3 separate regions of the Homo sapiens genome follow, and regions 1 and 2 are each reported to be linked to region 3. The links are microRNA targets in miRTarBase. Many come from high-throughput screens and were not tested one by one. Region 3 holds a microRNA gene; each other region holds the end of a gene's coding sequence.
What was found. The annotated mature microRNA hsa-miR-6858-5p reads GUGAGGAGGGGCUGGCAGGGAC and lies in region 3 at 2,036-2,057, opposite strand. An mRNA with a match to its seed (bases 2 to 7 or 8) in the 3' UTR can be bound and repressed. Matches are read on the target gene's strand: a 7mer-m8 pairs with bases 2 to 8, a 7mer-A1 pairs with bases 2 to 7 and ends in A, and an 8mer does both.

Region 1: miRTarBase lists CKAP2L as a target of hsa-miR-6858-5p. Seed matches in the 3' UTR shown: 7mer-m8 at 1,165-1,171.
Region 2: miRTarBase lists SPRY4 as a target of hsa-miR-6858-5p. The part of its 3' UTR that is shown has no 7-base or 8-base seed match.

What each region holds. Positions count from the first base shown.
Region 1 is chr2:112,736,056-112,739,403 of GRCh38, reverse strand. CKAP2L (cytoskeleton associated protein 2 like) reads left to right here. Exons shown (of 9, transcript NM_152515.5): 9 at 356-3,055. The coding sequence ends at 581. It overlaps NT5DC4 (5'-nucleotidase domain containing 4), which reads right to left. Exons shown (of 17, transcript NM_001393655.1): 17 at 309-491. The coding sequence ends at 468. Among named protein-coding and RNA genes, the nearest start is that of NT5DC4, 17 kb to the right of the region's middle.
Region 2 is chr5:142,311,373-142,314,656 of GRCh38, forward strand. It overlaps SPRY4 (sprouty RTK signaling antagonist 4), which reads right to left. Exons shown (of 2, transcript NM_001127496.3): 2 at 1-3,284. The coding sequence ends at 2,837. Among named protein-coding and RNA genes, the nearest start is that of SPRY4-IT1, 5.3 kb to the right of the region's middle. RefSeq lists an enhancer at 1-47.
Region 3 is chrX:154,449,377-154,452,376 of GRCh38, reverse strand. It overlaps MIR6858 (microRNA 6858), which reads right to left and starts at 2,057; the gene lies at 1,991-2,057. It overlaps FAM50A (family with sequence similarity 50 member A), which reads right to left. Exons shown (of 13, transcript NM_004699.4): 9 at 2,642-2,696; 10 at 2,446-2,494; 11 at 2,278-2,348; 12 at 2,058-2,168; 13 at 1,723-1,953. The coding sequence ends at 1,945.

The DNA of each region.
Region 1 (3,348 bases), not on the chromosome of region 3:
TGTTGCCCAGACTGGAGTACAATGGCATAATCATAGCTCACTGCAGCCTTGACCTTCTGGGCTCAAGCAGTCCTCCCACTTCACCCTCCTGAGTAGCTGGGATTACAGGTGTGTGCCACCATGCCCAGCTAATTTTTATATTTTTTGGTAAAGATAGTGTGTTGCTATGTTGCCCAGGCTGGTCTCGAACTCCTAGAAAAAGCCATCTGAAGATGAAAGCTGCTCTAGACATATCTCTTGTATCACCCTATGTTAAAATGTCTTCCCTGTTTTATTATTGAATAAGAAACAAAAAATAATAAAGATAATTTTTTTAAATGATAAGGTTTTTAATGCATCTCTTGCTGTCTCTCAGAATAAATGGGATGCCGGAAGTGCAAGACATGAAATTTATCACTCCTGTACGGCGTTCGTCGAGGATTGAGCGAGCAGTGTCCCGCTACCCAGAAATGCTGCAGGAACACGATTTAGTAGTGGCTTCTCTTGATGAACTGTTAGAAGTGGAAGAAACAAAATGTTTTATATTCCGTAGAAATGAGGCGCTGCCTGTAACATTGGGGTTTCAAACCCCTGAATCATAATTTCTTGATGCTTTTTTTAAAAAAGGTGTTTCAGAACCAACATAAGACAAGAAATATTCTTGTCCAAGTGACCTGGAAAAAAAGAGAGGCATCATGGATGCAGATTATGGACGCTCAGGACTTAAGTAATTCACTGGGCTTACTCTCAAATTTTCTCTCCCCATGGGAAAATCTTTGCTTTATGTGTTTAAGACCAGTTTGCCAGTTTTACAGTATACATAAATTTCAAACTTTTGAATATTTACCCTACAACTATGATAAATATTTATACTTTATTGATCTACTTTAATCCCAACATAGTTTTTTATATCAGAAGGTTGGTCCCACAATATAATGGGACTTTTCTTTCTGCATCCACCTTAGCAGAGGGCAAGTTCTTTCATCGTGGAAGATCTGAACTTTGACGCTAGCTTGACAGGCTGAATGGACCTTGACAGATGGCCAAGTCAAAACCCCTCATTTTACAGATGAGTTTATGCTAGCTGTGCCTTTGCTCAGAGATCATAAATTTATGTGTGATCTTTGACTTTCATCACAGTATCCTTGTAAATGAGAGAGAATTCTTGTTTTTTCTATGCCAGGTCTCCTCAGATGAAACACAATCCTGAATTGGCATGGTCGTCTAGCTTTTATATTCAAACCTAGTTTTGCATTTGTTACTCAGAAACACTTCAAGTAACAAAAGGGGGGCAGGGGAGAGGGGTGGGGAGTGGACACTTGCTTCTTCAGTTCTTTGCTCAGCTAGGGTATAGCTGGCCTGAGAAGGCAGTGCAAGCCCCAGAGACTGTTGTAGGTTGCTTTTTCTTCCTCCTGGGCAACTATTTGTGGAAAGGTTTTACCTTAGTCATTATGTAAATATAATTGTGTAGAAAAACCTAGTCAACACATTTTAAATTTTAGCTTTCTTAATATTTAAGTATTATCTTAAAACAACATTAAATTTCTATTAGTTCCTGCTTGTTTATCTTATTTATTATAGAAAACCATGATAATGGCTTTGCATAGAGAATTAGGAGTTTGTCTAAGGATATACCAGTTGGCTGTCCTAAGAAACAAGGAGCATTCATTACCAAGGAGAATGGACTTTGATCAAAGGTCTATCAGCCTCATCCAGGAACTAGATTTTTTTAAGGGAAGCAGATCTATTTCTGAAAGTCAGATTTATAATAAAGCTCAAAAAACTGAGCTATAAACCTGTAATACCAGCAGACTTTCAATAAGAGACTCTTACAACTCAATTGTGGAAAAACTAATAATTAAAAATGGGCAAAGGACCTGAGCAGACATTTCTCCAAAGAAGACATAAGAAATGGCCAGTAGGTATAGATATGAAAAGGTGTTCAGCATCATTAATCATAAGAATAATGTAAATTAAAACCACTGTGAGCTATCACCTCACATCTATAAGAATGGCTATTAACAAGACATGAGATAAATGTTGATGAGATTGTGGAGAAAAGAGAACCCTAGTACACTGTTTGTGGGCGTGTAGACTGGGGCAGCCGTTATGGAAAACGGTATGGAGGCTCCTAAAGAAATTAAAAATAGAACTGTTATCTGACCCTCTTCTGAGTAAGTATGTACCCAAAGAAGATGAAATCACCAGCTGGGCGCAGTGACTCACACCTGTAATCCCAGCACTTTGGAGTGGGTGAATCACCTGAGGTCAGGAGTTCAAGACCAGCTTGACCAACATGGTGAAACCCCGTCTCTACTAAAAATACAAAAAGTAGGCGGGCATGGTGACGGGCACCTGTAATCCCAGCTACTTGGGAGGCTGAGGCAGAAGAATCACTTGAACTCGGGAGGTGGAGGTTGCAGTGAGCCAAAATTGCGTCACTGCACTCCAGCCTGGGTTACAGAGCAAGACTCCATCTCAAAAAAAAAAAAGATGAAATCATCACCTCATAAAGATATCTGCACTCACATGTTTGTGGCAGTGTTATTCTCAATAGCCAAGATGTGGAAACAACCTAAATGCCCATCAATGGACAAATAAAGAAAATACGGCATATGCATGCCGTGGAATAGTATTCATCCTTGGAAAAGAGGGAGTTCTTGCCATTTGCCACAACATAGATGGACCTGGAGAACATTATGCTAAGTGAAATAAGCCAGACCCAAGGAAAAATACTGCATGATCTCACATATGGAATATTTAATTTTTTAAGAAAGAGCTCAAGTACACAGAGAAAGTGCTTACCACAGATTGGGGAAGAGGAAATGGGGAGATGCAGGCCAAGGATACAAAATAGCAGATAAAATGAACAAGTCTAGAGATAGGGCTAAAGTTAATACAATTGTATTAGGGATTTTTGTTAAATAAGTAGATTTTAGCTGCTATTATCACAAAAAAACTGAGATGATAATGTTAATCTGCTTCACTATAGCAGCCATTTTATTATCTATATGTATCCCATAACATCATGTTGTAAATCTTAAATATACCTAATAAAATAAAATTGTCACCAAAATGCAAGAATTAGAGTTAACTTTACCTGTGAAGCCAAGTAATGCTCAGAGGGCTGCTTAGAGATCACAAAATCTGAACATAGGACGTAGAGGCATCAAATATTCAAAATCACCAGGCTTAGAGAGTCTGAAGTGAGTCCTGTGTTAGGAATATTCTTGCCTTGAACCTCAGACACTGTCCTAAGCCCGTCGACCAGGTTCTCATGATCGATCCTGCAGTGCCATCCATTGCTTGTGCACTTACTTTTTTTCTGGCTTCTAGAGTGGTCCATCTTTGCTACCTAAATCCCTCCCC
Region 2 (3,284 bases), not on the chromosome of region 3:
CTAACCAGCACTTTTCAAAAAAGGTCAAGCCGAGGCATCGTCCAGCCAAACAGGCCATTGGTGACAGGAAACACACTCAGCCAGAAGCAGCTACACATGTGTGTTGTGTCTCTGAGTGCTGGGTCCCTCAGTGGCTCTCGACTGGCCCCAGAGCCGGGGAGGGTCCACAGGCAAGCCAGTTTATCCTTCTGTTTGTTGTTGTTGTTGTTGTTGTTGTTGTTGTTTTAATTTTTGCCAAGAAGCTGAGAAAAACAATGCTGAGGGATTGCTACACAACCAAGCTGGGAGAACCAAGGATGGTTCCTTCGCTCCTTTCCCATGACCACTGAGCACACGAGGCACTGAGGTGGACTCTTAGAGAGCACTCTGCAGACATCCATCAAGCAGGTTGAAAGCAAACCAAGAAGAACAAGCTAGAACAGGGGCAGGGGGAAAAAAGGAAAAAGCAAACCAAAACCCAGAAAAATCCGTGTTTACAAGTATGTACACAAAAAGTCAGGGTTCAGGAGGCCGTTTGCCAGGAAATAGGGTCTTTGTCGGTAGACAGTCAGTGTGGGGTAGGGGTGTGTGTGTGTGTGTGTGTGTGTGTATACACAGCTTATGTAAATCGACTCTCCACAGAACGGGTGTGTAGACCACCAAGATCACCAAAGTGCAACTTGCCACTGGGTCAAGTTTCCCATGGAGACAATTTGAGGGAGGGGCCCTGGGAAGTTCTGAGGCCTCGCAGAAAGCGTGCAGATGTGCACTATCAATTTTGGGGCCCCCTCATCTGAGGAAAACCATCTCCAGTCCCTTCAGTACACTTCTGATACATTCAATTCATATAAGTGGTTGGCTGAATGTGTGTTTTTTTCTACCACTCCTTCTGAAATGTTCAAGAACATCCATACATCCGTCACAACTGTGGCAAGGGTAGCTACACGAATCAGCCTTGGAAAATGCAGATGCAATATTTCACATTCGCCTTTTACAAGCTAGCAAATGTTACATAAATAAAGCCGAAAATAATATGACCCTCCCTTCCTCCAATCAATAAATACCTATGGTTACAATCAACTTACTCTAAATCATAAGATGTTACTACTAGTCTTCAAGAAGGAAAAAATAAGTCCTTGAGAAGCATTAGGTGCCTATCATAGCTACCTACCTCGCTGCCTCCTTCCCGGAGGCACCTCTGTTCCTATACAGAACAAACTGGAAATGCTACGGACGCTCTGCCTCATGCACTTCCAGTTTCACCTGGGGTAGCTCTTCTGACTCAGGCCATGCCCTCTCATTAGAGGGGAAAACAAAATACCACACAAAGCAAGAACCCCACACAAAAGCTGGGGAGGAAGGACCAGATACACTACAGCTTTTGCATGCAACAAGTACCTACCCACTGGACGTGCTGCACCTTCTGAGTCCTTTAGCACCTTGAGAGAAAGAGTTGCTACGTCTTTGAGGGCTGTCGGGAGAGGGTGGTGTGGCTGTGCACAGAAGCAGGGCTCAAACCCAGTGGCCCCTGGAAAAACCTTTCCCCTACCCTCTCCCCAGCTCTTCCAAGCTCTTCCGACTCCCCTGCTGGGGCTTCCTAACACTAAAATAGACTCTTTTTTCATCATCTCTCTATTTACATTAAAGATACAGACACATCACTATACACAAAAGGCTATGACAGTGAGCAGCAGAATCAGAAGAGAAGAAACCCAAACCCAGCCTGGCTCAGCGGTCATTCTGCCAATGGGAGGTGCTGCCTCTCTTCTTTGCTGTTAAAATCCTCTTGTTGATAGGGAGGGAAATTGTGTTCCTTGAGGTTGCTCGCCCCCAGATTTTGAAATCAGCCCTTCCTGGGGGTGGCCAAAAGGAAACAAGTTGTTTTATTATTATTTTTTAAAACACCGTTAGCATCCGGTTTAATTATTCTATAAAAACATAATGACTGGATCCAGAGACCACAGCCTCAGACTCATTGGCAAAATGATATTTGGTCTCGCATTTGCCGCCCTGGCTTCCTCTACCCATATAAAGTTTCTGGAAGGGATCTGAGTAGAGAGAACCCAGGACACGTAGTGGGCAGGCGAGTCTGTGACTCAGTAAGAACCGAAGGACGGTGTGGTGAGCAGAACACCCCCGAGAGTTAGTTGATGCAGTTGGAAGGGAGAAGTGCACTGAGCAGTGGCTCCTAAATCCATCCTGTGGCTCCGGGGAGGCAGAAGGAGGAACGAGGCTTGGACTCACTGGCCGTCCTCTGTTCTCAGTGGCTCCCAAGTATATACAATAGGAACTGCTAGGGTGTTCTACACCTTCCCCAAGACATCAGGGACAAAGTGGGGTGGAGTGAGATGGGGAAGGAGAAGAAGGTATAGAAGACTCCAAGGGTCTTCTTTAAAGGTACCCTGGTACTCAGTTAACAATTCCTCCCAGGCAGCTAGCTCCTGTGAGAGCCAAAGACAATGGAAAAGAGGAAGGGGGGGGGGGCGGAGGGAGGGAGGGAGAAGGAGGGGCTGGGAAGGCATTCAAGCAGCTGCAGTTTCCGGATATGTGTCCACATCTGTGTTCTGTCTTCTGAAAAAGAAAAATTTCCCCCCAAACCACACCCTGCCCCTGCATTGTCTGTTTGACACAAAGTTTCAGGACCCTGAAAAAAAGCCCCAAAGTGCTTCTTCATCACCTTGGGGAATACAGGGTACGTGGTGGTGGTCTCTGTATTTTCCGAAGCTGGGGGTAGGGAGTGGGCAGACTAGCAAGGTCAGCCTCAGGAGGCTAAAACCTCTGACCTTGCTGCAGTCTTCTTAGATGTCAGAAGAGAACCAGGTTTCCAGGCAGAGCACTGGGGCTTCGACACAAACTGTCAGAAAGGCTTGTCGGGCCTGCTGGTCTTGGCATCCCCGCTGGCTGCTTTGCAGATGACGCTGTTCGTGTGCTTGCAGCGGCAACCAGGGCGGCGCAGACGGTCGTAGCCACGCTGGGCCAGCTTCACGCAGCCGGTGGCAGGCAGGTAGCAGAGCAGGCAGGGCAGCACCACGGAGAGAGCACCCATGAAGGACCAGCGGGCGCAGCAGTTGGAGCGGGAGCAGGAGCAGGGGTGGTCAGCGCAGGAGCCCTCATCGTCCTCATTCGTGCAGTGGTAGAAGATGCCCTGCACCAAACACATGCACGTGCCATAGTTGACCAGAGTCTGGGCTGAGCACAGGCACTCCTGGTTGCAGACCCAGCAGGAAGGCAACGTCCGGGGGGATGCACACTCCTTGCATTTACACTTCCCACAGGCCTCGCACAGCAAGAAGTGCTTGTCCAGC
Region 3 (3,000 bases):
TTTCACCATGTTGGTCAGGCTGGTCTCGAACTCCCGACCTCAAGTGATCCACCCGCCTCAGCCTCCCAAAGTGCTGGGATTACAGGCATGAGCCACTGCACCCGGCCTCCAGCTCACTTTTGACCCAGACTTGGTGTTCCCTCTGCCTGGAACACTCCCTCCCGCATCGGAATGGCTGACTTCTTGTCATTTGGATGTCAGCTTAAATGTCTCCACGCCACAAAGGCCAGCTCATCTTGTTCTACATTTTGTTTTGTTTGTTTCCCTCTCTGTTTTCTACACACACAGCCCCCAGGAACGAGGCCCGGGTGAGCAAAGTGGGTGACCACCCCTGGCACACACTGATCCTTGGTGACCTTATCTGGTTCCAGAGCATCAAATAGCCTACTCAGCCAAACACAGTGGCTCACACCTGCAATCCCAGCAATTTGGGAGGCTGAGGTGGCAGGATCACTTGAGCCCAGCAGTTCGAGACCAGCCTGGGCAACAGAGCAATATCCCATCTCTACAAAAAAAATTTTTTTTTAATTCTGTTCCAATTTTCATGTACATAAAAATAAAAATAGCTGGGCATTGTGGTGCACACCTGTAGTCCCAGCTACTCAGGAGGCTGAGGCGGGAGGATCACTTGAGCCCAGGAGGTGGGGGCTGCAGCGAGCTGAGATTGCACCACTGCACTCCAGCCTGGGAGACAGAGCAAGACCCAGTCTCAAAAAAAAAAAAGAAAGAGGAAAGGAAGGAGAGGGGAGGGGAGGGGAGGGAAGAAAGAAGGAAGGAAGGAAGGAAGAAGGAAGGAAGGAGGGAAGGAAAAGAAAAGAAAGAAAACATTAGTCTACTCTCATCTCTATTCCTAGTGACGCCAGGTGGCTACTTCCCGGCCACGCTGAATGAGACACTGGGCCTCTGCACTATCGGGCACCATCAGATCTCCACATTTGCCAGGAAGGGGAGGCCAGACCCAGGGCTGGGGTGATCCTGGCCAGTGAGGGGCTATCCCCTGCCCTTTCTTCTTGGCTTCAGGCCAGGGGAGGAAACAGGGAGCTGTCAGCTGGCCTTCCTCAGCCTCCTGGAGCCAGGCCTGCCTGCCTCAGCTTAGCCAAGTGGAACTTGGGGAATCAGCTGCTGAGGTGGCAGAGTAGGGGTCCTGGACCTACCCCCGATCTGGATCCTGCCCCAAGGGCTGTCTGAGCAGGGCTAGCTAGGGCAGGGCAGGCAAGTGTCGAGCACAGGGCACCACAGCAGAACGACTGTGCTGGGACGGCCCACAGCAAGGAAGGCAGGATGGGTTTTCGTGGCCACAGGACGGCCACGTCCCCTACGGGAAACTCAACAGGAGCCCAAGGGCCTGGGAGAGAGGCCTGGGGAGGAACCCCCTTCCCACCCACCAGAGCCACCACCGCCCAAGGACAGGTGCCCACGGTCAAGAAGCACAGTGCCACAAAGACACCTCAGGGATGGTGGGGCTGCCACGGTGACAGACTCCCCAGGCACGTATGACACGTCCAGAACAGGTCAATCCATGGAGACAGAAAGCACATGAGAGCCTGGTGGGGGGATGTGAGGGGAGGAGCCTGCCTATGGCCACAGGGCCTTTGGAGGGATGAGAATGTCCTGGAAGCAGACCAGGGTGATGACTACACAACATGGCAAATGTGCTAAATGCCACCAAATTGTACAGTTTTAAATGGTCAAAATGACAAATGAATTTGGTCCGAACACAAATGGTTTCTCACAATGCAGGCGCTCCAGCTCTGACACGTGCACTTCTTTATTGGAAAAGAATAAAGCAGTCACTGATGTGGCAGGGGCAGGACACGAGCAGCTGCCGTCCTCCTCCCAGCGTGCCTGGCATGGTCGCAGGGGAGCGGGTGCCTGGAGTCCCGGTGACACCACGGGGCACACTGAGGGAGCTGAGGAGCCGGGGCCGCGCAGCCTCCTGGATGCTCAGCGGATCTAGTGTGAGGACAAGGTGGGCAGAGGAGACAAGGAAGGCGAGGGGTGAGCAGGGGCTGGCTGCCGTCCCCAACTTGGAGGGGTCCCTGCCAGCCCCTCCTCACCGTGTACTTGTCCCACTTCTTTTCAGGGTCGTAGGGTTCCCAGCGGCTGGCGGGAAAGATGTGCTTGTTCTTCTCGTACCAGCTCCTCAGCACCACCTTGCCTGCATGGGACTAAGGGAGGAAGAGGGCACAGGGCCGCCTGCTGACCTCCCCTTCCCTTGGCTTCTCCTCCATAGCCCAGGGACACCCGTTCCCCCTCACACGGCCCCCTACGCTGTACCTCATCCTTCTCCACAGTGGCGTCACTGAGCAACCGCACATCGTCATGAACATCAAAGTTGAAGAGTGGTCCTGCAGGGGAGAAGTGACAGCCCAATGTCCCGCTGCTGCCCCAGTGACAACATCGGCGGCAAGGTGCTATGGGGGCGGCTGGGTCGGCGGCACTCACCACTCTTCCCCCGTGCCTTGGTGACGATGAAGTCGTAGAAGCTGTGATGCTGGGAGCCAAGGGCAGGAAAGCGGCGTCTTGATGGTCCATCTCGGCCCCTCCCCACACCCCCCGCCTGCGCACACTGCCCCCACCAGCCTGAGCCAAAGCCCAGGGTGCTGCACCCACTGCGGGTACTGGGGCTGAAGGGACTCACGTGAGGGATGATCAAGTCCTCCTTGATGTACATGAGCTGCTCCACCCCTGCGGACCTGAGGGAGGAAGGCAGGAGGGCGTGGGCAAGAGGACAGCACCCCTGCCCAGGGAGGGAGGAGACAGCCAGCCCAGGAGAGCCCATGCTGGGGCTGGGAAGCAGCGGCCAGTTGGCTGTGAGGGAAGCTCCATGGTTTAGTGAGCACAGGACTGGCGCCCAGCACCCTCCACCTTTGGGCTAAGGAACCAAGGCAGGCCGCTCTCAGCAAAGCTCTCTGGTGGGAGGGAAGGGAAGAGGAGCCTGACCCCCTCTTTTGGGAGGAGAGTGCCCAGCACGCTGCTTGCTTGCCCAGACAGCGCCCA